3 separate regions of the Homo sapiens genome follow, and regions 1 and 2 are each linked to region 3. The links come from fine-mapping of genetic effects on gene expression. A gene starts in region 3. Each other region holds a variant in brackets. All regions are shown on one strand. Distances are between the middles of the regions. Region 1 overlaps GALM (galactose mutarotase). Region 2 holds the start of LOC107985871 (a long non-coding RNA gene). Region 3 holds the start of GALM (galactose mutarotase).

What was found.
Region 1: its variant is fine-mapped to the expression of GALM in pancreas (GTEx, PIP above 0.99).
Region 2: its variant is fine-mapped to the expression of GALM in aorta (GTEx, PIP 0.98).

What each region holds. Positions count from the first base shown.
Region 1 is chr2:38,689,615-38,697,797 of GRCh38, reverse strand. It overlaps GALM (galactose mutarotase), which reads right to left. Exons shown (of 7, transcript NM_138801.3): 4 at 7,904-7,985. LOC124905993 (a long non-coding RNA gene) reads left to right here. Exons shown (of 3, transcript XR_007086292.1): 2 at 428-561. Among named protein-coding and RNA genes, the nearest start is that of GALM, 28 kb to the right of the region's middle. RefSeq lists a silencer at 4,777-5,071. The variant A/G (reference allele first, on the strand shown) is at 4,607.
Region 2 is chr2:38,146,663-38,154,845 of GRCh38, reverse strand. All of the region lies in intron 2 of CYP1B1-AS1 (CYP1B1 antisense RNA 1), which reads right to left. LOC107985871 (a long non-coding RNA gene) reads left to right here and starts at 4,680. Exons shown (of 4, transcript XR_007086290.1): 1 at 4,680-8,011. It also overlaps the pseudogene RNU6-951P. RefSeq lists enhancers at 7,585-7,674, 7,705-7,884, 7,085-7,893, 7,965-8,064, 8,095-8,144 and 1 more. The variant C/T (reference allele first, on the strand shown) is at 3,354.
Region 3 is chr2:38,662,540-38,670,722 of GRCh38, reverse strand. It overlaps GALM (galactose mutarotase), which reads right to left and starts at 4,609. Exons shown (of 7, transcript NM_138801.3): 1 at 4,372-4,609. The coding sequence starts at 4,561. RefSeq lists enhancers at 3,832-4,344, 4,345-4,857.

The DNA of each region.
Region 1 (8,183 bases), 27 kb before region 3:
GCTCCCTGTAACTGCATACCATGGTATCTCTTTTCTTTCTAGGTGATAATGCCCCATCCATAAGTGGGTTACTAACAAAATGGAGGACAGGACGTCACTCCTCCCCAAACACCTACAGGGGGAAGGTCCCCTTTTACTGAGCACTGTGGCCACAATTTTAACAGTTACTGCAAAATAAAAGTTGCTACATTCTCATGATGATGTGTTTTCCCATCACCTGAAAAATTATTTACCGAGTGTCTGTAGCCAGGGTGAAAAACACCCCTAAAGTTTAGATATGCATCAGTATTTCCCTCAAGAATAGCACACGTTAAAACTTTTATAAAGAGAAAACAAAAATAAGGAGTTGAAAAACATATAAGTATAAATTAATAGCCACAAAAGGGAGAAGTTAAAGAGAGACTATGAAAACATCTTTGTCTTGCAGAAAGATACAATCTGAGAAGCAACCCTGCAGGACTTGGCTGAAAGTCAACAGGCGGCTGATCAAATGAAGCAATAGAAGCTGTGTAATTTGTCACATCAAGCACCTGCGACAAACCCACGCACAATCCGAGGAATGTAGGTGATCTGACAAAAGGCCTTATGTTTAAAATTTACCCTAAGTTTCCCTAAATCCATCACAAATTTCCCCACATAAGCCACTTTTTCAGACACAGTTTAACTATCTTTTCTTGTGACACTAGGTGCATTTGAAGAGTTCTTGGGGGCCGGGTGCAGTGGCTCATGCCCATAATCCCAGCACTTTGGGAGGCCACAGCAGGTGGATCACTTGAGGTCAGGAGTTCGAGACCATCCTGGCCAACATGGTGAAACCCCCTCTCTACTAAAAATACAAAAATTAGCCGGGCGTGGTGGCATGTGCCTGTAATTCTAGTTACTCGGGAGGCTGAGGCGGGAGGATTGCTTGAACATGGGAGGCAGAGGTTACAGTGAGCTGAGATCGCGCCACTGCACTCCAGCCTGGTTGACAGAGCAAGACTCTGTCTCAAAAAAAAAAAAAAAAAAAAAAAAAAGCTTTCTTGGGGGTAGGTGCGGTGGCTCACGCCTGTAATCCTAGCACTTTGGGATGCTAAAGTGGAAGGATGGCTTGAGGCAGGGAGTTTGAGACCAGCCTGGGCAACATAGTGAGACATCATCTCTGCCAAAAAAGAAAAAAAAATCCATGTTGAGACATTTTCGTGTAAAAAAAGAAAAAATTACCTGGGTATGGTGATGTGCACCTGTAATCCTAGCTATTTGGAAGGCGGAGCCAGGAGGATTGCTTGAGCCCCAGAAGTTTGATGTTACAGTGAGCTATGATTGTGTCACTGTTTCAGCTTGGGCAACAGAAAGAGACCCTGTCTCAAAAAAAAAAAAAAAAAGAAAAGAAAAAGAAAAGCTGGACACAGTGGCTCATGCCTGTGATCCCAGCACTTTGGGAGGCTAAGGCAGGTGGATCACCTGAGGTCAGGAGTTCAAGACCAGCCTGACCAACATGGTGAAACCCCATCTCTACTAAAAATACAAAATTAGCCAGGTGTGGTGGCACATGCCTGTAATCCCAGCTACTTGGGAGGCCAAGGCAGGAGAATCGCTTGAACCCGGGAGGTGGAGGTTGCAGTGAGCTGAGATCACGCCATTGCACTCCAGCCTGGGCAACAAGAGCGAAACTCTGTCTCAAAAGAAAAAAAAAAATCTCTACACTTTTTTTACTGTTATAGTGACAATAATAGAGGCTTTTCTCTCCAGGAGCTCTAAGTGAAATTAATGAGAAATCTCATGACCCTAAGAAGAGAGATTTAAAAAACAAACACGCAGGCGGGGTGTGGTGGCTCACACCTGTAATCCCAGCACTTCGGGAGGCTAAGGCGGGTGGATCACTTGAGGTCAGGAGTTCAAGATCAGCCTGGTCAACATGGTGAAACCCCATTTCTACTAAAAATACAAAAATTATCCGGGTATGGTGGCATGCGCGCCTGTAGTCCCAGCTACTCAGGAGGCAGAGGCAGGAGAAGCACTTGAACCCGGGAGGTGGAGGTTGCTGCAGAGAGCTGAGATCGAGCCACTGCACTCCAGCCTGGGCAACAGAGTGAGACTCCGTCTCAAAAAACAAACAAGCAAACAAACAAGCAAACAAACAAAACCACACACACATAAACAAGGATTTGGGGTGGAAAGCAGAGGACTAGGATGGTAAGCAAAATAACTGATTTACGCAGTAAAAGTCATTCATATGCAAAAAGGCCAAAGCTGTTTTAGAGAAGTTTTCTACTGTTGATTTCTGAGGGTTTCAGCACAACCAAGCAGCCACCCCAGGAAAAGCCAGGTAGAGCAAAGGGTCTAAAACGAACTCATTATCCAGCATCTCCCCAGGATAAATGAAGTACCCACCATAAGGGACTGCTCCAGATAGCTGAACGCCACCCTGTAAATGGTACAGCTTTTCTTTAACTGTGTCTGTAAGTTTGCTTTCTTTTTTTGAAACTTTATTTATTTATTTATTTAATTTATTTATTTTGAGACTGGGCTGTGAGATTGGCTAATTTTTGTATTTTTGGTAGAGATGGGGTTTCACTGTGTTGCCAAGGCTGGTCTCAAAGTCTTGGGCTCAAAAATCCAACCGCCTCCACCTCCTGAAGTGCTGGGATTACAAGCATGAGACACTGCACCCGGCCTGTTTGTAAATTTTCTACCGAAGGTGATTTTTCTATCATTTTCAACAGAGATGACCAACATACATACTTAAAGAATGTGAACTTTCAACACAACTTGTTCATAACAAGATTCTGCATATGAGAAAACCAAGAACCAGAAAGACAAGGGATCTGTCAGGAACACCATATGCTGCAACAGAACAATGACACCTGAGGTGACTTTCCCTTGACTTTCCCTTTCTTTTTTTGTTTTTTTTTTTTTTTTGAGACGGAGTCTTGCTCTGTTGCCCAGGCTGGAGTGTAGTGGCCCGATCTTGGCTCACTGCAACCTCCACCTCCCGGGTTCACGCCATTCTCCTGCCTCAGCCTGCCGAGTAGCTGGGACTATAGGCGCCTGCCACCACGCCTGGCTAATTTTTTTGTATTTTTAGTAGAGACGGGGTTTTACCATGTTAGCCATGATGGTCTCGATCTCCTGACCTCGTGATCCATCCGCCTCGGCCTCCCAGAGTGCTGGGATTACAGGCTTGAGCCACTGCGCCCAGCCTGACTTTCCCTTTCTTGTCAGACTGACAAGGCCAGACACTTAAATTCATGCTCTTTAATTTCAAGAAAACCTCTCCCTCCTTCCCTTTTTCCTTTCCTTCCTTCCTCTTTCTCTCTCTCCCTTTCTTATATTTAATTTAAACAAACTTGGTTTCCTGTTTTCTTTGCAGAAAAGTAGAAATAAATTGAAGGGAGGAAGGAACAAGGAGGAGACAGTGAGAGGACTGGGGAGGCTCCCTGTACAAAAGGTGGCAAAAGAGCTGAGGATTGACAGCTGGCAAAAGTCTGTTCTTTGTTTTGGCTTACTTCTCATTTATTGACTATATGTTGCACTTGGGTATTTATATAGTAAAGAAATTAATTTACTTTTCTTTTCTTTCTTTCCTCACTCCTTTCTGCCTCTCCCCTACCTCCCAAATCTTCTTCTTTTTTTTTGAGACAGGGTCTTGCTCTTCACCCACATTGAAGTGCAGTGGCACAATCACAGCTCACTGCAGCCTTGACCTCCTGGGCTCAAGCAATTGTCTTACCTCAGCCTCCCAAATAGCTGGGACCACAGGCATGCACCAACACTCCTGGCTAATTCAAAAAAATGTTTTGTATTAACAGGGTCTCCCTATGTTGCCCAGGCTGCTCTTGAACTCCTGGGCTCAACCAATCTTTGGTCTCCCAAAGTGCTGGGATTAAAGGTGTGAGCCACTGTGCCTGGCACCAAACCTTCTTGACATCTAACCACATTGTAAGATCTGTAGAGTGCAGGTCTACTTAAGAGCCTGAGTTCTAATACCAGACTACCTTGGTGTGAATCCCGGCTTTCCCCAACTTGTTAACTGGGTCATCCTCTGTAAGGTACTTTAACTCCTTGTTCTATAGTTTTCACATCTGTTAAATAAGAAAAATGAACAGAACCTACCTTACAGGCTTGTGGTATGAATTATTTATAAAGTCCTCCCTGAAATACTAGCTATTATTATCATAAAGCTTCACCTTATCTCACAGATAATCAGTATCTTCTTTTTCTCAATTCAACAAAACCACAGTCGGTAGATAGTGCATATTTATTTTGAGAAGTCTTAATGGAGTATGGCTGGTCTAACAGGTTATTTTCTCTCTCTCTTTTTTTTTTTTTTTTGGAAGCAGAGTCTCGCTCTGTTTCCCAGGCTGGAGTAAAGTGGCGTGATCTGGGCTCACTGCAACCTCTGCCTTCTGGGTTCAAGCGATTCTCCTGCCTCAGCCTCCCAAGTAACTGGGATTACAGGCGCCTACCATCACACCCAGCTAATTTTTGAATTTTTAGTAGAGACAGGGTTTCACCATGTTAGCCAGGCTGGTCTCGAACTCCTGATCTCAAGTAATTTGCCCACCTCGGCCTCCCAAATTGCTGGGATTACAGGCATTAGCCACTGCACCCGACCTGGTCTAAC[A/G]GGTTCTTGTAGCACGTCTCAGGAAAGTGGCCTTGTGGTTCAGTCCAGCTCTGGCAGAACACGCTGAAGTTTGAGACTGGACTCAGGCACACCTGTGAGTCAGCTATGTGGATCGGCCTTGAGCTCCAGGCCAGCCTGGGGCCACCCAGGGCCACCCTAGGGATTGCAGTTCCACAGAGCCTGGTACAGATCTGACATGGCCCCAATCAACCTCTCCAGGCCCATCCACTCTCTGCCACTAAAATTATGCCCCAAATGCTTTGCTTCAAAAGCACAGCACTTCCCTGGGCTAGTCCTGCTATTTCTTGCACCGCCCACGCTTGTTCATCTTTATCTGGAACACCTTTCTCCTCCTCACTCCCTGGCAAACTTCCACTTTCCCTTCCAGGTTTTATTTAACTCTCATTTCCTCTATCTGGAAGCCCCCTCAGCAGTGCCTGCCCTCTGTGCCAAGTCTCCTAGTTATGTCTATCCTGATATTTTCCAGATTAATGGACACAATTCTGGCTGACCCTTCCCATAGACTGCCAACTCCTAGAGAGCCCAGCAGCACTTCTGAGTGATCAAATGATGGGCAAGCCTTTTGGATTTCTTTCAAAATTAAGCTCATGGGCTTTTGATCAGTGTTAAGAGTCAGATGAGGACCAGCATGGTGGCTCACACCTGTAATCCCAGCACTTTGGGAGGCCCAGGTGGGAGGATTGCTTGAGCCTAGGGATTCAAGACCAGCCTAGGCAACATAGGGAGACCCTGTCTCTACAAAACAGAAAGAAAAAAAGAGAGAAAATCTGGGCTCCTAGAGATTTGTTCTCAGTGGAAAGTGGGCCAGACATGTGAATTCTTACATTCCTAAAGTGCAGGGTAGCAGTTACTACCACCCATTTTTGGAGGAAGTTTCAAAGGAATCAGACAATTAGCTTGTTTCTTAAGGACTTCTGAGAAAAGAGAAAACAATACTACAATTTCTGCTTAAGTGTCACTCGGCAAACAGGTATAACATGTAGGTCTGACTCAAGTATGGATAGGTAGGAGAGAATTACAAATTTTTCATGAGCTCTGAAGTTGCAGCAACTTATTTACTTCAATGATAGAGCTCTAAAGGATTTGAAGAGTTGTGGAAATAGCAGTAAAATGTCATGCTAGGAGCCTCGTAGAATTGGAGAATGCAAGAGAGAGAAGTGGCCTTACAGATCAATTACTAGTTCTGAATTATGAGTTAGTGATAACATTTTCACTGGTCCCCAGAAAACTGAGATACGTTTGGATAATCTGCTATTTATTTTTTTTATAGTATTGGCTCCAAGTGGTACCATATTATTTTTTAAAAAGCTACATAAATTCAACATAAAGAGTTGTTCCTTATTCTGAGATTAAATTTGTTTACACTTTTATGGTACTAAAATATTCTTTCATGAAAAGATGGTGATTATAAATGGTAGTTTGGTCTTTTTTAAAAAAAAAAAAAAACTACTGAAATATAACACATATATTCCCAATTAGGTTTTTTTTTGAGATAGGGTCTTGCTCTGTTGCCCAGGGTAGAGTGCAGCAGAGATCACGGCTCACTGCAGCCTCCAACTCCTGGGCTCGAGAGATCCTCCTGCTTCAGCCTCTTGAGTAGCTGGGACCCCAGGTGCGTGTTACCACACCTGGCTATTTTTTTTTTCAATTTTTTGTTGAGATGGGATCTCACTGTGTTGCACAGTCTGGTCTCGAACTCCTGGGCTCAAGTGATCCTCCTCTGCCTCAGCCTCCCAAAGTGCTGGGATTACAGGTGTGAGCCACCATACCCAGCGAACGCAAGTTTTATGCAGTCCATTAGAGTGCATGTTAAGCCTACTGTGCTTTGCCACAATGATTTTTTACAATCAAGTAAAATAACTTGGCCTTTACAGGCCTTTAAATGCACAAATTATGCCCTGTTGTGATTTTCATCTGATCAACTCAACCGGATAGCATGAGAAGATTTTATAAATATACACAAATAAATATGCACTTATTTCATAACCTCCACTTATAAGCTAATTGATTCACTTTCTTCCTTATCAGTCACAAAACAGCAGCCACCACTATTTTTTCCTTGCAGTTCACAACATATAGTTCTACTGCAGTAATTCTGCCTCTAGGACCAGATGGGCCAGCTTACTCATGCCCTTCTATTGAGTCATGTAAATATCACAAGATGACACATGCTACCAAGACAAACAGAAAAGCCTTTAAACTCAGCCCTGGAGCCAGGAAAATATTCAAAAACTGTGATGCCAAAAATTTGACCCCATTGAGCTCAATTTTTCATTATTATTCCAATTAGTTTTGTAGTCACTATATTTATGGGAGTTCCTAATGCCTGCTGTTACCTGAAGTTGCTGTTGGGTATGCAGGCTCACATGCTTACCTTTCTTCCTCATAAAAAGTTTGAACTAGCAGCCATAAACTCAACCCATTAAAGAGGCCAAAGTGGCCGGGCGCAGTGGCTTACACCTGTAATCCCAGCCCTCTGAGAGGCTGAGGCGGGCAGATTGCTTGAGTCCAGGAGTTTGAGACCAGCCTGGGCAACGTGGTAAAACACTGTCTCTACTAAAAATACAACAGGCGTGGTGGTGTGTGCCTGTGGTCCCAGCTACTCAGGAAGTGGAGATGGGAGAATCATCTGAGCCTGGGGAGGAGGTCTAGGCAGCAGTGAGCTGAGATTGTGCCACTGTACTCCAGCCTGGGCAACAGAATGAGACCCTATCCCCTCCCGCACCGCCCCCCTCCCAAAAAAGCCAGCTAAAACAAAAGCTGTTACCTAGTGTAAGATGAGTATCCAGTAAAGTTATTTAAAATTTTTTTTAACTTTAGTTTCTTTTGCATTAAAAAAATTTTTTTTTAATCTTAAAAAAAAATAAGACGGGGTCTCACCATGTTGCTCAGGCTGATCTCAAACTCCTGGCCTCAAGTGATCCAACCGCCTTGGCCTCTCAAAGTGCTGGGATTACAGGCGTGAGCCACCGCGCCCAGCCCCAGTAAAGTATTATCTTACTCACCATTTTTTAAAAATTTTTGAAATTTTGAAATAATTTTAGACTTACAGAAAAGTGGTAAAAATACTGCATCTCTGTCCCAGCTTTCCCTCATGCTAACATTTTACATAAACACAGTACACATATCAAAACTAAGAAATTACCACTAGAATAATTCTATTAACTAAACTGTAGACTTTATTAAGATTTCACCGCTTTCTCCACTAATGTCCTTTCTTGGCCTCGAGAGCCAATCCATGATCCCACATAACACAAAAAGGTTAAATTCACCAACCTGTAGGAATCAGGGTTTCATCCACAGGCAAATAAGTATCCGCTTCTATGGTGACTTCATGGTCATTTATATTTGGGGAAGCCTGGGAGGAAAAGGTAGGGGAAAGGTTTTCTGCTTAGTCTTATTTCATATATTTGTTTTTTAACTTATCTTGCAAAAATGTTTTCAGGCATTGACAAAAACTTTTAAAATCTTGTTTGGCTGATGGTCATGATTAAATATAATCAACTAAGTGGAGGTAGATAAGGCCTCAAAATAGCAACAGATAAATTTGGAAGAA
Region 2 (8,183 bases), 520 kb after region 3:
TACTGAAATGCACTCTGCTAAAAGTTAGCATGAGTCTGGCTGCAAGGACCATGACATCCTTTTCTGAGCCCCTCTTGCCCAGCCCAGCTTGGGCTGCCCTCTGAGAAAGTTGCCAGCCTACCATATTGAAGATAAATGTTGCTTGGCCCTGTCCAGATGACAGAGATTCAGCCATGCCACGTTCAGACTTGCTTGGGCAGTTAGTTCCCTCTTGGATGCCAAAGCCTGCTGAGGCAATGGATATCATTAGCTGTCAGGGGTGTGCTGAGATCAGCTTGCAATGTCTGCTGAGATCAGTTTGCAATATCTCCTGAGAGCCAATTGTGTGCATCTCTTCTAAACTCTGCATTCAATGACATCACATTAACAGCTTGAAATCAACTCTGGTGGGAGTATTTTCGCCATGGAAATTGGCAAACTCTACAAATCAGGACTTTCTCTCTTCCCAGTCCTCATCCTACCCCACTTCTGGGCATGCTGACATAACAATCATTCACTCTTTCTAGGAAGACTCTCTTCATCCAGCTTCCAGGAGGCCACATTTCTCAATCTGCTTTTCTCAATTTCTTCTTTTGACACTGGAATGCCTCAGGATTCCATTCTTCAACCTCTTCTCTTCCTACACCGATTCCTTGGTGGTCTCATTCAGTTACATGTCTCTAAATTCCATCTTTATGCTGAGGACTCAAAATGTATATTACCAGTTTGGACTTCTTTGAATTCCAGCCCTGTATATCCAGTTGCCTACCTTATTTTTCCACTTGGATATTAAGTAGACATCTCACCTTAAAATGAGTAGAATTGAAATCCCCTCCAGAACCTGCTTGATCTACAGTCTTTTCTGTCTTAGAATGGCAACTTCCAGCTTCTCAGGCCAAAAACTTTGGAGTCATGTTTGACATCATCATTTCTTTCACAATTACACGTGCAATCCACCGGCAAATCCTGTTGGCTCTGCCTTTGAAGACATCTGGAACCTGACCACTTCTTATAATCGGTGGTAATTACTCTCCAAGTCTAGATTTTTGCCACTCTTTTAATTGCTCTCCTGTTTCTCCCTTGGATGCTTACCATCTTTCACTCAGTGTGAAAGCCCCAGTCATTACAATGGGCTGCCAGGCCCTATTGAGTTGACACCTTCTTACTTCTCTGACCTTATCTCCTACTGACTGCATTTTGGGCACATGAGCCTCCTCCTGGTTTCCACAACATGGCGGGTTTGTTTACATCCTCAGCCTGTGTACTGGTTGTTCTTTCTGCTGTCTTCCGGGAAATCGCTTAGTGTTCTTCCTCATCTCTTTCACCAGCTGTCTCAACTGTTATCTGATTGTTATTGAGGTCCACCCTGGCCATTTTTTTTGGTAAAGAAACAGAAAACAATAGTAACAACAACAAAAAAGGCCACCTTGAATGCCCACTCCCACCTCCCATCACTTGCTTTATTTTTTCCCATAGCACTTATCACCTTCTAACATACATATCTTTTATTTATTTATTTCATTTATGTTTTCCCCTCTCCTCTAGAATATAAACTCTATGACAGCAGGGATTTTGGTCTGCTTGGTCACTGTTGTATCTCCAGGGCTTATAAAAGTCCTGATCTACGGTACAGTTGATTCTCATTATTTGTAATATAAGTTATGCTCTATAAAGTCACTGCAAACAATGAATTAGCAAATATTGAACCACTGCTCCTAAGGGAAATGCAGGTTTAGGTTCCAGTGAGCCTCTAGTTACATTTTTGCCAACTGATCAATAGATAACCTTACTTTATGTGTGTTTCTGATTAAAGATGCCTTACTTAATATATATTGTTGATTCATCAGCACTGAGCTCACAGCCAACAGCACTTTAACTCATGCCTGAGCAAGGTGTATCTAACACATGTATTTTCTCTGTAAGGCACATCACAGCCTTATTGTTTTTAGGAATACTAGACTTGAGGGTCATTTTTAGAGAGTGAAATTGCTAACAAAACCACAAAAGTTTGAAAAATAAGGCACTAGGTTGACCACAGAAGGTCACTTGTTTACAGTATGAGAATGGAAACAAGAGGGCAGAGTATTGCCTTGTTCACCTTCGTCTGTTGACGTGCACATAAGGTAACTCAATATTTTGCCACTTGGTGCATGCCTACAAATGCCTGCAAAAACTCTGAATACTGATTTGGGGGTTACAAATAAATTTTAGTCAGTAGGCAAATTTACAAATGCAAAAATCTTCAAATAGTGGGGATCAGCTGTATATTCTCAACATCTACTTATTGAGAATGTAAACTTGATTCTCTGATACTGACACACACGTGGCCTCTGGAAATCTTGAAGTTAAACATCTGCAGGGCATCTACCTAGTGTAATTTGGATAGTTCCTTAGAGCTGCATGTCTTAATGTCTTCTTCCACTTTTTCCTTATCTTGGTTTGAAAGGCTAGGAAAGGATTCACTCCTTTGGGCTTCAAAACATCCTTGTTATATTGAACATGTGTTATAAATAATCAGGACTGGAAACACAGAAGTCAGGGTGAGCTGAGGAGGGGAGAAGAGCAGATAGCACTTCCTCATCTGTGCATTAACACATGATGAGTGGCAAATTGTATTTTCCAAAGATGGCCAGTGTCTCCTATCGTCTGTGCTCTTCTACGTTGTGACCTTAGTTCCCCCTCATCAAGACGTGGAGTCCACTTGAATCTGAGTGGGCTTGTAATTGTTCAAACAGTAGAGTAGGGAAAGTGATACTGCTTGACTTCTGAGGCTCAATCATAAAAAGTGACGCAGCTTCCTCTTAGTTTTCTAGAACACTAGTTCTTGGAGCCTTGAGTCTGAATACCTAGGCCACCATGTTGTGAAAACACCAACCCATGTATAGAGGCCATGGGTAGGTAATGAGTCACCTATCCTCGTCTTTGAGTCCTATTAGCATAGGAACCAGACCTGTGAGGAAGGGAGCCTTGAGATGATATTTGCTCCCGGCCATCAAGTAACCATTGGCCTTTGCTTCTTTCCAGCTAAGGTCCAAGACATTGTGGAACAGAGACAAGCCATTTCTACTGTGTCCTTATTGAATACCTGGCCCACAGTATCCCTGACCATAACAAAATGGTAAGGGTTTAAGTGGTAAAGTCGTTACATGTTTTGAAGGTGGTTAATTCTACGGTAAGTGACCAGACAAATGGTTCTAAATTCACTTGTGTTGCTAGTGTCATAAGACAAAATTACAACAAATTTGGTTTAAAGATCTTAATTGCTGCCTGTGTTTTTGAGGTCTTAGCCATAAAATCTTTGCCTAGATCAATGTCCTGAAGCATTTCTCCTGTGTTTTCCTCTAGTAGTGTTATAGTTTCAGATCTTACATTTA[C/T]GTCTTTAATCCATGTTGTGTTGATTTTTGTATATGGTGAGAAATAGGGATCCAATTTCATTCTTCCGGATATGGATATCCAGTTTTTCCAACACCGTATATTGAAGAGAGTATTTTTTCCCCAGTGTATGTTCTTGGCACCTTTGTTGAAAATAGTTTGCTATAAATACGTGGATTTATTTCTGGGTTCTCTATTCTGTTTCACTGGTCTATATGTCTTTTTATACTAAATATCATGCCATTTTGGTTACTATATGTAACCAAATATAGTATATTTTGAAGTCAGATTGTGTAATGCCTACCACTTTGTTCTTTCTACTCAGTATTGCTTGGCTATTTGGGGTGTTTTGTAGTTCCATATAAACTTCAGGATTATTTTTCTATTTCTGTGAAGAATGTTATTGGTATTTTGATAAGAGATTGAATCTGTAGATTACTTTGGGTAGTATGGTCATTTTAACAATATTAATTCTTCCAATTCATGAGCATGGAACGTCTATTTGTTTGTGTCTTCTTCAATTTCTTTCATCGGAAAGAATTTATTAAATTTGATTAAATTTATTCCTAGACAATTAATTTTTTATAGCTATTTTAAATGGGATTACTTTCTTGATTTCTTCTTCAGCAAGTTAATTATTGGTATATAGAAATGCTATTGATTATGTATGTTGATTTTGTATTCTGCAACCTTGTTAAATTCATTTATCAGTATAGCCATTATAGAAAACACTATGGAAGTTTCTCAAAAAATTAAAAATAGAACTACCATGTGATCCAGAAATCCCACTGCTGGGTATTTATCCAAAGGAAAAAAAATCAATATATCAAAGGGAGACCTGCACTCCCATGTTTATTGCAGCACTATTCACAATAGCCAAGATACAGTATCAATCTAAGTGTCCATCAACAGATGAATGGATAAAGCAAATGTGATACACACACACACACACACACACACACACACACACAATGGAATACTATTAAGCCGTAAAAAAGAATGAAATTCTATCATTTGCAGGAACATGTATGGAATTGAAGGGCATCTTGTTAAGTAAAATCAGCCAGGCACCGAAAGACAAATATTGCATATTCTTACTCATATGTGGGAGCTAAAAAGATGGATCTCATGGAGGTAGAGAAAAGAATGGTAGCTACTAGAGGCTATGAAGGGTGTGTGGGATGAAGAGAGGTTGGTTAATAGGTACAGACATATAGTTAGACGGAATAAGCGCTAGTATTCAGCCTCAAAGTAGGGTGACTATAGTTAACAAAAACATATTGAGTATCTCAAAATAGCCAGAAGAGAAAATTTGAAATGTTCCTAGCTCAAAGAAATGATACATGTTCAAGGCGATGGATATCCTAAATACCCTGATTTGATCATTACACATTCTATGGCTGTGTCAAGATATCACAGATACCCCATAAATATGTGTAATTATTATGTATCAAAAACTTTATATAAAAAACATTAATTTGCTGTATTTTTGATTCTACAATTGGGCAGCACTTTATTCCATAAAATAGAATGAGTGTTCTGATGAGCCAAGAAGAGGAGGTTGGTTTTACAGACAGAAAAGGGCTGTGGAAAGCAGAAAAAAACAAACAAAAAAAATGTGGATTGGTCATTTCAAAGTTTCTTTTCATGTAAAGGTTAAAGCAGAGGGGACTTTCTTGTCCTGCTGGCACTGGATCTAGGTCAGTGTTGGAGACGATGTCTGGGACTCAGGGCCTTCGCAGATCACAGAGGCTGGTCTTGCACAACCTCTAAGAGGCCAGGCCAGGCCATGGCTTACCTAAGAGCTCAGCCCAGGGAAGCCCTAGGTCCTTTCCTGGCATCTTAGAGGGAACCATGTCTTACTGGCTCAGGCTAGACTTGCACATTAATCCACTGAGTTGACTTTGGATCTTACAGGCTCAAAGGGTGGTCTTTGGGAGCAGGAAGTGATCAGGACCCTGGTCAGATTCATATATCTGCAACTGAGCCCACTCAAAGAAATAAATAGAAAAATTACATATTTTTGGTTATTTGCCTTAATGTCACAGATTACCATTAGGCCAAAGATCTTCTGAGGTATATGCGTACAAGGTGATTTTTTAGTGTTTTTTTTTTTAAATTCTCTCTTTTTCTATAAATTTTAATGATGACTTGAGTATAAAACAAGATGATCCACTCTGCAGCACCAAAGGTGGGCAAGAGAAGAGATCAGAATCTGGTATGAGACTGAAAATCACTGTGGCAACCAGCTTCAGTGGGGCAGCTGGGGTTGGCTCTGAAGAAAGTCTGTTCCATTTGTATAGCAGACAGGAGCCCATGGGGTTCCCATCAGCTAGCACTGGGAGTGGACTTCAGAGGCTGCACGGGCTGCTGTTGGACTGGTCTAGGGGACGGGGGAGGAGGGAAGATGCCTGTGAGGCAAGGCAGAAGGGCTTCTAGACCTCAGACTGAGGGTCAGGGAAGACCTATCTTCCTAAAGGTGTTGGGGAATAGTTAGGCTAGCAGATCAGAACAGGTCAAAAGAATAAGCACTATGGTAGAGGCTATTGTGGGTTTGGGGAAGGGGAGAGAGAATAAAGGGAGGAGAGATCTGCAGCTTGTGTGCCTACACTGTTTCTCAGAAGCCTAGGCCTGGGAGCTGGTTAGCAGCAAGAACACACAATAGGGAAAGCCCCGTAATTGTCCTGGCTCCTGGCACTGGGAGACTGACTTAGTTCTCATGGCGAGGAGCTCTCTGAGAGTATCACCCGGGCAGAAATGTAAGGAGCACACCTGGTTTTGGCCAGTCATTGCCATGTTTGCAATAACATGGCTGTGGGCCAATATCATTAGGCAACTTTGTGACTTGGTCATTGAGCAATGATCGAGGTCCTATTTGAAAGCTAAGGTCAAGCTTATGAAGCAATGCCAGCTTGTAACATCGTGCAGGTTTATTTAACACAGATGAAACCAAGACATATCTTTACCATCCAGGAGTAAATTATCCCAGGCACAGGGAAAGATGAAGTAGGAATGTTTCTTTTGGTGTCTTCCATGTCTAGTTTCAGAGACCCCATTCAGCTCCCATCTCACTCTGTATCTCACCCCTGGCCTGTGCTCTATTCTCTCAGGGCCACGATCCTTCCTTTAGTCTTCCTCCATCTCTCCATCCCTCTTTCCTTCCTTCTTTCCTCAAATATATTTTTTGAAACAGTACTCAGGATTTTATTTGTTTATGTTTTAATTTCAACTTTTATCATAGATTAAAGGGTACACATGCAGGTTTATTACATGGGTAAATTGCATCACCCTGAGGCTTGGGATCCCAATGATCCCATCACCCAGGGAATAAGTATAGGACGCAACAGGTGGCACTCCAGCCCATGCCCCCTGCTCCCTTCCTTCCCCATCTAGTGATCCCCAGTGCCTATTGTTCCCATCTTCGTGATCATGTGTCTTCAACGTTTAGGCCCCACTTACAAGTGATAACATGCAATATTTTGTTTTAGGTTCTTACATTAGGTCATTTATGGAGGTCATAATGCCTTCCACCTCCATCCATGTTGCGAAAGGACATGATTTCATTCTTTTTTATGGCTGCATAGTATTCCATGGTGTATTTGTACCTCATTTTCTCTCTCCAATCCACTGTTGATGGGCTCTTAGGTTGATTCCATGTCCTTGCTATTGTGAATGGTGCTGCAGTGAACATAGGAGCATATGTGTCTTTAAGATAGGATGAATTACTTTCCTTTGGGTATATACTCAGTAGTGGGATTGCTGGGTCTAATGGTTGTTCTATTTTGAGTTCCTTGAGAAATCTCCAAACTGTCTTCCACAGTGGCTCAACTAGTTTGTGTTTCCATTAAGAGCATATAAGCTTTCCCCTTTCCTCTGCAGCCTCACCAGCAACTCTTATTTTCTGTCTTTTTAATAATAGCCATTCTGACTGGTGTGAGATGTTATCTCATTGTGGTTTTGATTTGTATTTCTCGAAATTATGGAATGCTGCATAAATTTGTGTGTCATCCTTGTGAAGGGGCCGTGCTAATGTTCTCTGTATTGTTCCAGTTTTAGTACATGTACTGCCGAAGCGAGCACTTGAATATTTTTTGAGCACCCGGTATGTGCCAAGGGTAGAGCAGAAAGTCTCTTCTCCCATGGGTCTTATATTCTAGTCAGGCGAGACTTACTACAAACAAACATAGAGCCATTGAACATATCAGGTGGTAAAAGGTGCCACGAAGGAAAATGAAATAGGGGAAAGGTACACTCAGCATGTCCAGGAAAGACTGGTCTGACAGGATGCTCTCTGAGGAGAGCCTTGGAAGCAGTGAAGGGGAAGCCAGATGGGTATGTGGGGGCGAAAACAAGGGGGGCCCAAGGCCTCAGGTGGGAGCCATTCTCGAATCAGCAGGGAGGCCTGTGTGGCCTCACTGCTGAGTCAGACAGAGAGGAGGTGGGAAGAGATGAGGTCAGAGGGAACTGAGGGTCAGATGGTATGGTAAGAGCTGGCTGTATCTGACTCAGCTTCAGGAATTTGCCTTCCCAGGGTCAGTTTTCTTAGTGGCTTCTTAATTACTGAAGATACATCAAAACTAAAATGAATGAATCTGAAGTGTCCTTTCAATTTTGGGGGAGAAATACTTGAACAAGGGGCACCTCCCTTCAAACCCCACAGGTATCTGCTTTTGAAAGCTTTGCTTCCCTTCTCCTCTCTAAAAGTTGTTTCCAGGCTGAGGAGCTGCGGGGGTGGCGGGAGAAGGGGGACTTCCTGAAGCAGGAACAGAAAACACCAGACTGTTCTCTGGCAATAAGCCTCCTCCCACCCAGCAGACATCTCAGTGGGGGGA
Region 3 (8,183 bases):
GTATTTGGGGGCAAAGGAAAGAAAGGGGATAAAAATGATTAGTTGCTCCCTCTGATCAGAGACGTATCAAATATGTGGTCAGATATGGTTAGACACATATCACAGCCCATGGCTCATTAAATCATCACAATCCATTTGTTTCACGTGAGAAAATAGGTCTGGAGAGTTTAAGTAAATTGCCCGGGGTCGCACAGCTTTAAGGAAGGAAGCAGAACTTTAAACCAGGAATTTTCAATGCTCCCACCAGGGTGCTCCTGGGCGTGAGCGACAATAAACTGCAGCCTCTAACCTGATCCTTTTTTTTCCTCATCCCTGCTTCTGAACCCAGGTTTTCTAAAGGCACTAAATTTACTTTTTCTATTTTTTCCTTAATGCCTCTCATGGCAGTTAATAGCCAGGTCTTTGGTGGCAACTGGGGGAAACATGAAAAGGAAGGCGTTTCAATGATTGTATGGGTAGGTTGTTTATACCTGTGGCTTATAAGCAAATATTTTCAGCACAGGCTTTGAAAGAAATCATAATGACTGTAGGTGGGACATGCCGATGAAAAATATTTTTAGGCTGGGCGTGGTGGCTCACACCTGTAATCCCAGCACTTTAGGAGGCTGAGGTAGGTGGATCACTTGAGGTCAGGAGTTTGAGACCAGCCCTGACCAATATGGTGAAACCCCGTCTCTACTAAAAATACAAAAATTAGCCGGGTGTGGTGGTGCCCACCTGTAATTCCAGCTACTTGGGAGGTTAAGGCATGAGAATCGCTTGAACCCAGGAGGTGGAGGCTGCAGTGAGCCGAGATAGCGCCACTGCACTAAAAAAAAAAAAAAAAAGAAAAACTTTTTTTTTCTTCTTTTGAGATGAAGTCTTGCTTTGTCACCAGGCTGGAGTGCAGTAGCACAATCTCGGCTCACTGCAACCTCCACCACCCAGGTTTAAGTGATTCTCCTGCCTCAGCCTCCTGAATAGCTGGGATTACAGGCATGCGCCACCATGCCCAGCTAATTTTTGTATTTTTAGTAGAGATGGGTTTCACCATGTCGGCCAGGATGGTCACTGTCTCTTGACCTTGTGATCCACCCACCCAGAGTGCTGGGATTACAGGCGTGAGCCACCGTGCCCGGCAAAAAACATTTTTAAATACAAAAAAAGGTTGAAAAACTCATAGGAGGCATTACTGATTTTTCTAGGCTGTTGTAGCAGGACGAGCCGCAGACAAAACTCCTTAGACACCGGATTGAAGAAGGCAGACTTGCGTCTCAAAAGCCGAGCTCACCGCGTGAGCAATTCCCGTCCCTTTTAAGGGCTTACGACTCTAAGGGGGTCTGCGTGAGAGGGTCGTGATCGATTGAGCAAGCCAGGGGTACCTGACTGGGGGCTGCATGCACCGGTAATCAGAACAGAACACAACAGGACAGGGATTTTCACACTGCTTTTCTATAAAATGTCTGGAATCTATAGATAACATAACTGGTTAGGTCAGGGGTCGATCTTTAACTACCAGGCCCATGGCGTAGTGCCGGGCTGTCTGCCTGTGGATTTCGTTTCTGCCTTTTAGTTTTTACTTCTTTCTTTGGAGGCAGAAATTGGGCATAAGGCAATATGAGGGGTGGTCTCCTCTCTTACTGTAACTAAAAATTTATATAATTTTCTTCTTTAGAATTCTATGAAAGAAAAAAATCCCATTTTCCCAGGGAGAAACTGAACCATTCTGACCTCTGGTTATGGCTGTCATCCAAACAGTTTATATAACCTGTCTGGGAAATTGAAGATTGTTCATATCTAACTCTGCAGTTACAAAAGGACCATGTCTCATGGAATTATCCACGCTCAGATCTTCCGCATGGCTCAAAACCATTTTTGGGATATGGTAATGTCAAGATAACCCCTTATTCTGTCAAGTATTTAAAAAAATTTTTTTTAAATTTAAATTTATTTATTTATTTATTTATTTTTATTTATTTTAGAGACAGGGTCTCACTATGTTGCTCAGGCTGGTCTCAAACTCCTGGCCTCAAGCGATCCTCCCACTTTGGACTCCTAGGATTACAGGTGTGAGCCACCATGCCGGCCTCTGTCAAGTCTTATTACTTTAAATTATTTACCTCTGTTTGTTTATATATACTTACATACTCTGATGGTTTAAAAGAATATGCAGTGAAAATTAAGTCTCCTTCCCATCCTCTGCACCCTGGGCACCCAGGATCCTTTCTTAACAACCACTGTTACCAGTTTATTGTTAACATAGGTTTTAATGCACTAGAAATGTAGTATCAGAGCACCATCAAAATAGTAACAGAGTGTTGTATATCTCCCCTGTAAGAGTCACAGCCCACACCTCTACAACAAACACAGGGTAACAAGAGAAAAGCAAAACAGCTGGGCACAGTGGCTCATGTCTGTAATCCCAGCACTTTGGGAGGCTGAAGTGGGAGGATTGCTTGAGGCCAGTAGTTCGAGGCTGCAAGTCAGCTATAATTGCACTACTCCACTCTAGCCTGGGTGACAGAGCGAGACTCCACCTCTAAAAAATAAAAAATACATAAAAAAGCCAAACAAATTTATTTGATTATAGTTTTATGTGACACGGGAGCTTTCAGAATGAAGACCGACAGATACAAGGAAAACAATCCATTTCTATGCTTAGGTCCAATGGAACATGGACAGCCATGTAGAAATATGATTGGACCAAAAGGGTAAGATCTGTTGCTAATAGAGTGAGTGGGGAAACTCGGCAAGGCCTGTGTTCAGATTTTTCTTGGCCTCCCCATGCAGCATTTCTTCCTCCGGGTATGGGGCAGGACCCCTCTGGAATGAGGGTCTTAATTTCTTTATGGTCAGCTGTTACACAGAAAGGCAGAGGGAAAGGTTAGAGTATATTTTTATTTTTTTGAGATGGGGTCTCACTCTGTCGCCCAGGCTGGAGTGCAGTGGCGCAATCTCGGCTCACTGCAACTTCCGCCTCCCAGATTCAAGTGATTCTCCTGCCTCAGCCTCCCAAGTAGCTGGGATTACAGGTGCCCGCCAGCAGCCTGGCCAACATGGTGAAACCCCATCTCTACCAAAAACACAAAAAAATTAGCCGGGCATGGTGGTGTTCAACAGAAAGCTGAGTTTTGTTTTTTTCCCTGAGGAATTGAAATTTGCTCTCTGTTTTTTAAGATAGAGTTTCGCTCTGCCACCCACGCTGGAGTGCAGTGGCGCAATCTTGGCTCACTGCAACCTCCGCCTCCTGGGTTCAAGCTATTCTCCTGCCTCAGCCTCCTGACTAGCTGGGATTACAGGCACGTGCCACCATGCTCAGCTAATTTTTTTGTATTTTTAGTAGAGACAGGGTTTCACCATGCTGGCCAGGCTGGTCTGGCCAACATGTAACCATGAGCCAAGTTACATATCTTACGTATCGGAAGAACCAAACAGACAGAATGACACACCAAAAGGAAAACCTCAAACCTCCTCTCCAGCAGAATTTGTCTACGCCCCAACCACTGAGCAGAGAGTATTAACTCTCAGTTTCCCTTTGCCAGCTTTATTTCACACCTCATTTTCTGTCTAGTTACACCATGGTGCTAAGAGAGCATGATGTACATTTTCCTTTGCTGCAATCAAGCTGCAATTGTCATTCTTTATTTATGCAATTACTGAGTTAAAGTCTATCTCCCCAGCCAAACCGCAAGAGTGGGGACCTTGTCTGTCCTGTTTAATGAGGTCATCGGATTAATAGAGTTGTCAAATGTATTAATTAATGCCTGATCCTAATTGCCCATGGATTCTGGGATAAAAGTCCATCCTAGTTGGTAGGAGACCTGATCTCTGAGAAGACACTGAGTTGGTCTTCTCTATTTTGTTCCTAAATGGTTATTGGGTAGCTGGTGTACTAGGCAACCACTGAGCTTAGTGGAGCATTTCTGAGACAACCAGGCCTCAAAGAGAATCTGATCAAGGAAGAAGGAAGTAGAAGAGGCAAGTATTTGAATTTCCTTCTTCAGAAGGGAAGAAGTGGGAGCCACACCCCCTCTTGCCTGCTCTTTCCTCTCCAGCCTTCTCCAGGTATCAGGCAGTTCAAAGATTAGGCAGTTCAAAGATCGCTCCAGGATCGCTGAAGTGTATCATACCATCAGCTGACCTTTTACGTTAACTGGGGCAAAGCCTGAACGGATAACCAGAGGCCAACTGCCATAGTTTATTTATTACAGTTTTTCCCAAATGCTGGATGGCCACACGGCCCTCTATGATGCATGCGCTTGCAAGTCAGACGGTCCCAAGCTAGGCGACTTTCCCCCTTGGTCCCTCGCATTGCAAGTGGCCCGCTAGATCCGGGAGGTATGTAGCGTGGGCCTGGGGCCTGCTCGCAGCCCAGGGCACAGTTCAACCCACCTTCCAACTCGGCGAAGCCAAGCACCACGTCCGAGGCTCTCCCCTGCCTGTCTTTGACCTCTAGGGCTGTGATCGTGCAGCCCCAGGAGATGATGTCCACTCTCAAGAGGTCTGACTGCAGCTGGAACTTCTCCACTGTCCCTCCTCCCGAGGGCAGCTCTCCAAACACGGCCCTGGTCACCGAAGCCATAGGGAAAGTTTGGCGTGTGCAGCCACTGCCCGCTCTTCAAACTCCAGCGCTCGCTAAGCTAGAGGCGACCCAAGTTTACAGGAGAAGGGGCGTGACTCGGCTCAGACTCCTCCCTTTCCCTGCCTGGATTTAGGGAGTGACCGTTCCTGCAAAAAATAGCCCCTGGGGCCTTTCTAAATCAATCATTTGCCTGAGGGTAACAAGAGGGGCAAACTTTGCAGCCACACTTGTACTTTTTTTCCTTGGCTCGTCCTGGTTGCATTGCATGTTGGGAATGGTAGTTTTTGGGAGGTGAAATTGCATTTTGGGGCTTGTAGTCTTTCTAAACTCGAATCCTGGGTTGACGGGGTTCTACCCCCATCTCCCCACACCTCAACATGTAATGAGCTGGTCATTAATGTCGGTGGCTATCAGACGAAGAATGGGAAAATACAGATAGCAGACTTACAGTGAGACCGATCTTGGGAAAAAATTAGATTTTAACTCTTTGATACAGGGGGTAAGAAGTACAGCAGTAGTTGGCCGGCTCGGTGGCTCACGCCTGTAATCCCAGCACTTTGGGAGACCGAGGCAGGCGGATCACGAGGTCAGGAGATTGAGACCTTCCTGGCTAACACGGTGAAACCCCGCCTCTACTAAAAATACAAAAAAAAAAAAAAAAAAAAAAAAAAAAAAAAATTAGCTGGGAGTGGTGGTGGGGGCCTGTAGTCCCAGCTACTCGGGAGGCTGAGGCAGGAGAATGGCGTGAACCCGTGAGGCGGAGCTTGCAGTGAGCCGAGATCACGCCACTGCACTCCAGCCTGAGTGACAGAGCGAGACTCCGTCTCAAAACAACAACAACAACAACAACAAAGTACAGTAGTAGCTTAGAAATGAGGTAAATCATCTCAGGCTTCTCTGCACACAGACTTACTGAAGATTCACTCTTTTTGTCCCACGGATGAAGTCCTGGACATGGTTCTGTTAGAGCCACTGCCCAGAAGGCTCTCCTGACGGCCAAAGCTGTGCCAGCCTCGAGGAGCTTGGACCAGACAGGGTCAGGTAGATGGATTAGGCCCTCGGTGTGCGGAGGTGATTAGAGACAGCCTCAGACTTATTTTACTTCAAGGGACTGGAAAGGGACCTCTGGTGTCTTCTGGCTCCTGAAGTCCACAGTTCCTTTAAGAAGGGATTCAGGGAACAAGTATTGATTGAGGTCCTTGTAAATGCCAGGTACTGAACCTTTGTTATCTCCTTTTCTACAAGTAGGATGGAGTCTTCAGGTATGTACAGTTGGAGAGGAAAGACACTAAGGTTATTAAATAATTGTCTTGCTTGATTGTGTCTCAGAATTTGCTGAGGACATTTAAAATGCATATTCCCAGTCCCCACCTCTGGAATTTCTAATTCTGGAAGTCTAGGGTGAAACTCAGGAATCTGCATTTTTCATGTTCCCAAGTTATTCTTCTGCAGATTATCTGGGACCAGATTTAGAGAAATATTGCTCTAAGGCTTGATGAGTAATCTGAATTTTTTTCCCCAAAAAAATAGGCTCTGATGGCAGAAGGATTAAGATAAAGCTATTAAGGGCCTTAATGAGATAACATACAGGCACCTATGTACTTCCTTGCTAAGTCTGGCAACTTTAGAGGAGTACTGAGCCTAGGAAGTGGGAGGATGCTGGGAGCCTAAAGACAAGTTTTACTCAAGCCATCTGCATAATCATCTATCTTTTCTTGATACTGCTCTTGGCTTGGTTCCTGGGTACTTCAGAGGGTATCCAACTAGACTGGGGTGAGTGCAGAAATGAAATGCATCTTTGATTAGGAAATTATGAGAATTGGGATTATGTGCCTGGAATCAGATGCTAATAAAACATAATAACTATCTCTCAGCTTCTTCTGTCTGTAATTTAAGGTATATTTAGCATTCTTGCCATAAAGCCTCAATTCTCCATCATGAAGCAGAAGAATTCTGATAGCAAAGGAAAAATAAAAAAGCTTGCAACAGGCTTCAGTGAAGCTCAACGTATAATAATAAAAAGACCCAAACAAGTCAAATTATAGACTGCATCACACTCATACAATAACCGACAGGCACTCCTATGTGCTGCTTCATCAGAAATTCTCATAAACTCTCAGTTTCATCAGCCACTTAACTTTGTGGTGATTCACACGCAAGCCCTTTGGCAATGCTGTGTTAGCAAGGATGTCTTAGAAAAGTGAGCAGGAAGACCACTTTTTTTTTTCTCAACCTCCAGTTCTCAGTGTTCTGCCAAGCACATGCTGTTACAGAAGGAAATAAATGTATTTGCCTGCCCAATGCTAAATGTCTCTACGGAAGCTCTTTTTACTCCATTTGGTAGAAAATGAATGTACCATGATGTCTCCCTAAAATGTAAAGAGGCCTGGGCGCGGTGGCTCATGCCTGTAATCCCAGCACTTTGGGAGGCAGAAGCGGGTGGATCACCTGAGGTCAGGAGTTCGAGACCAGCTTGATCAATATGGTGAAACGCCATCTCTACTAAAAATAAAAATAAAAAAAAACTAGCCAGGCATGGTGGTATGTGCCTGTAGTCCCAGCTACTCTGGAGGCTGAGACAGGAGAGTTGCTTGAACCAGGGAGGCGGAAGTTGCAGTGAGCTGACGTTGCACCACTGCCTCCAGCCTGGGTGACAGAGTGAGACTCTGTCTCAAAAAAAAAAATGTAAGGAGTACACTTCTTGATTTCATTTTCCTTTGAAGGGTTTAACTAACATATTGTCGCAAATAGCATTACCTTGTGCTTGAATCAACTGTCAGGCACAAACCTTGATTTTTCTCACCCTAATATCCTATTTTTATCCCACAGTGAAACTCTAAAGGAATATCTGTGCACTTAAAAACAAACAAACAAAACCCCTAAATCTAGGGGCAATTCTCCATCTGCAGGGAAGTCAGATGCAAGGTAGTAATCTAGAAAATGAAGCACTGTCAAATTTCAGGAGGTATTTATTTTTATTTTGGGGTAAGGGCCTGAGGATGAGATTATAAGGTAAAGGGAAAAGGGATTATGGCATTTATGTAAAAGGAAAATTACTGGCCAGGCGCGGTGGCTCATGCCTGTAATCCCAGCACTTTGGGAGGCCGAGGCAGGCGGATCACAAGGTCAGAAGATTGAGACCATCTTGGCTAACATGGTGAAACCCCGTCTCTACTAAAAATACAAAAAATTAGCTGGGCATGGTGGCGGGCACCTGTAGTCCCAGCTACTCGGGAGGCTGAGGCAGGAGAATGGTGTGAACCTGGGAGGCGGAGCTTCCAGTGAGCCAAGATCACACCACTGCATTCCAGCCTGGGCAACAGAGAGAGACTCTGTCTCAAAAAAAAAAAAGGAGAATTACTTGAAGTAGATAGCATTTCCTCTAACTAGAAGGGGAGGTGTCAGGGTGGCCAGGTGAAGAATAAGGTCTGGTTTTTTTGTGTGTTTTTTGTTTGTTTGTTTTTTGAGAGGGAGTCTCACTCTGTTGCCCAGGCTGGAGTGCAGTGGCGTGATCTCGGCCCACTGCAACCTCCGCCTCCCGGGTTCAAGCAATTCTCTTGTCTCAGCCTCCTGGGTAGCTGGGACTAACAGGTGCATGCCACCATGCCCTGCTAATTTTTGT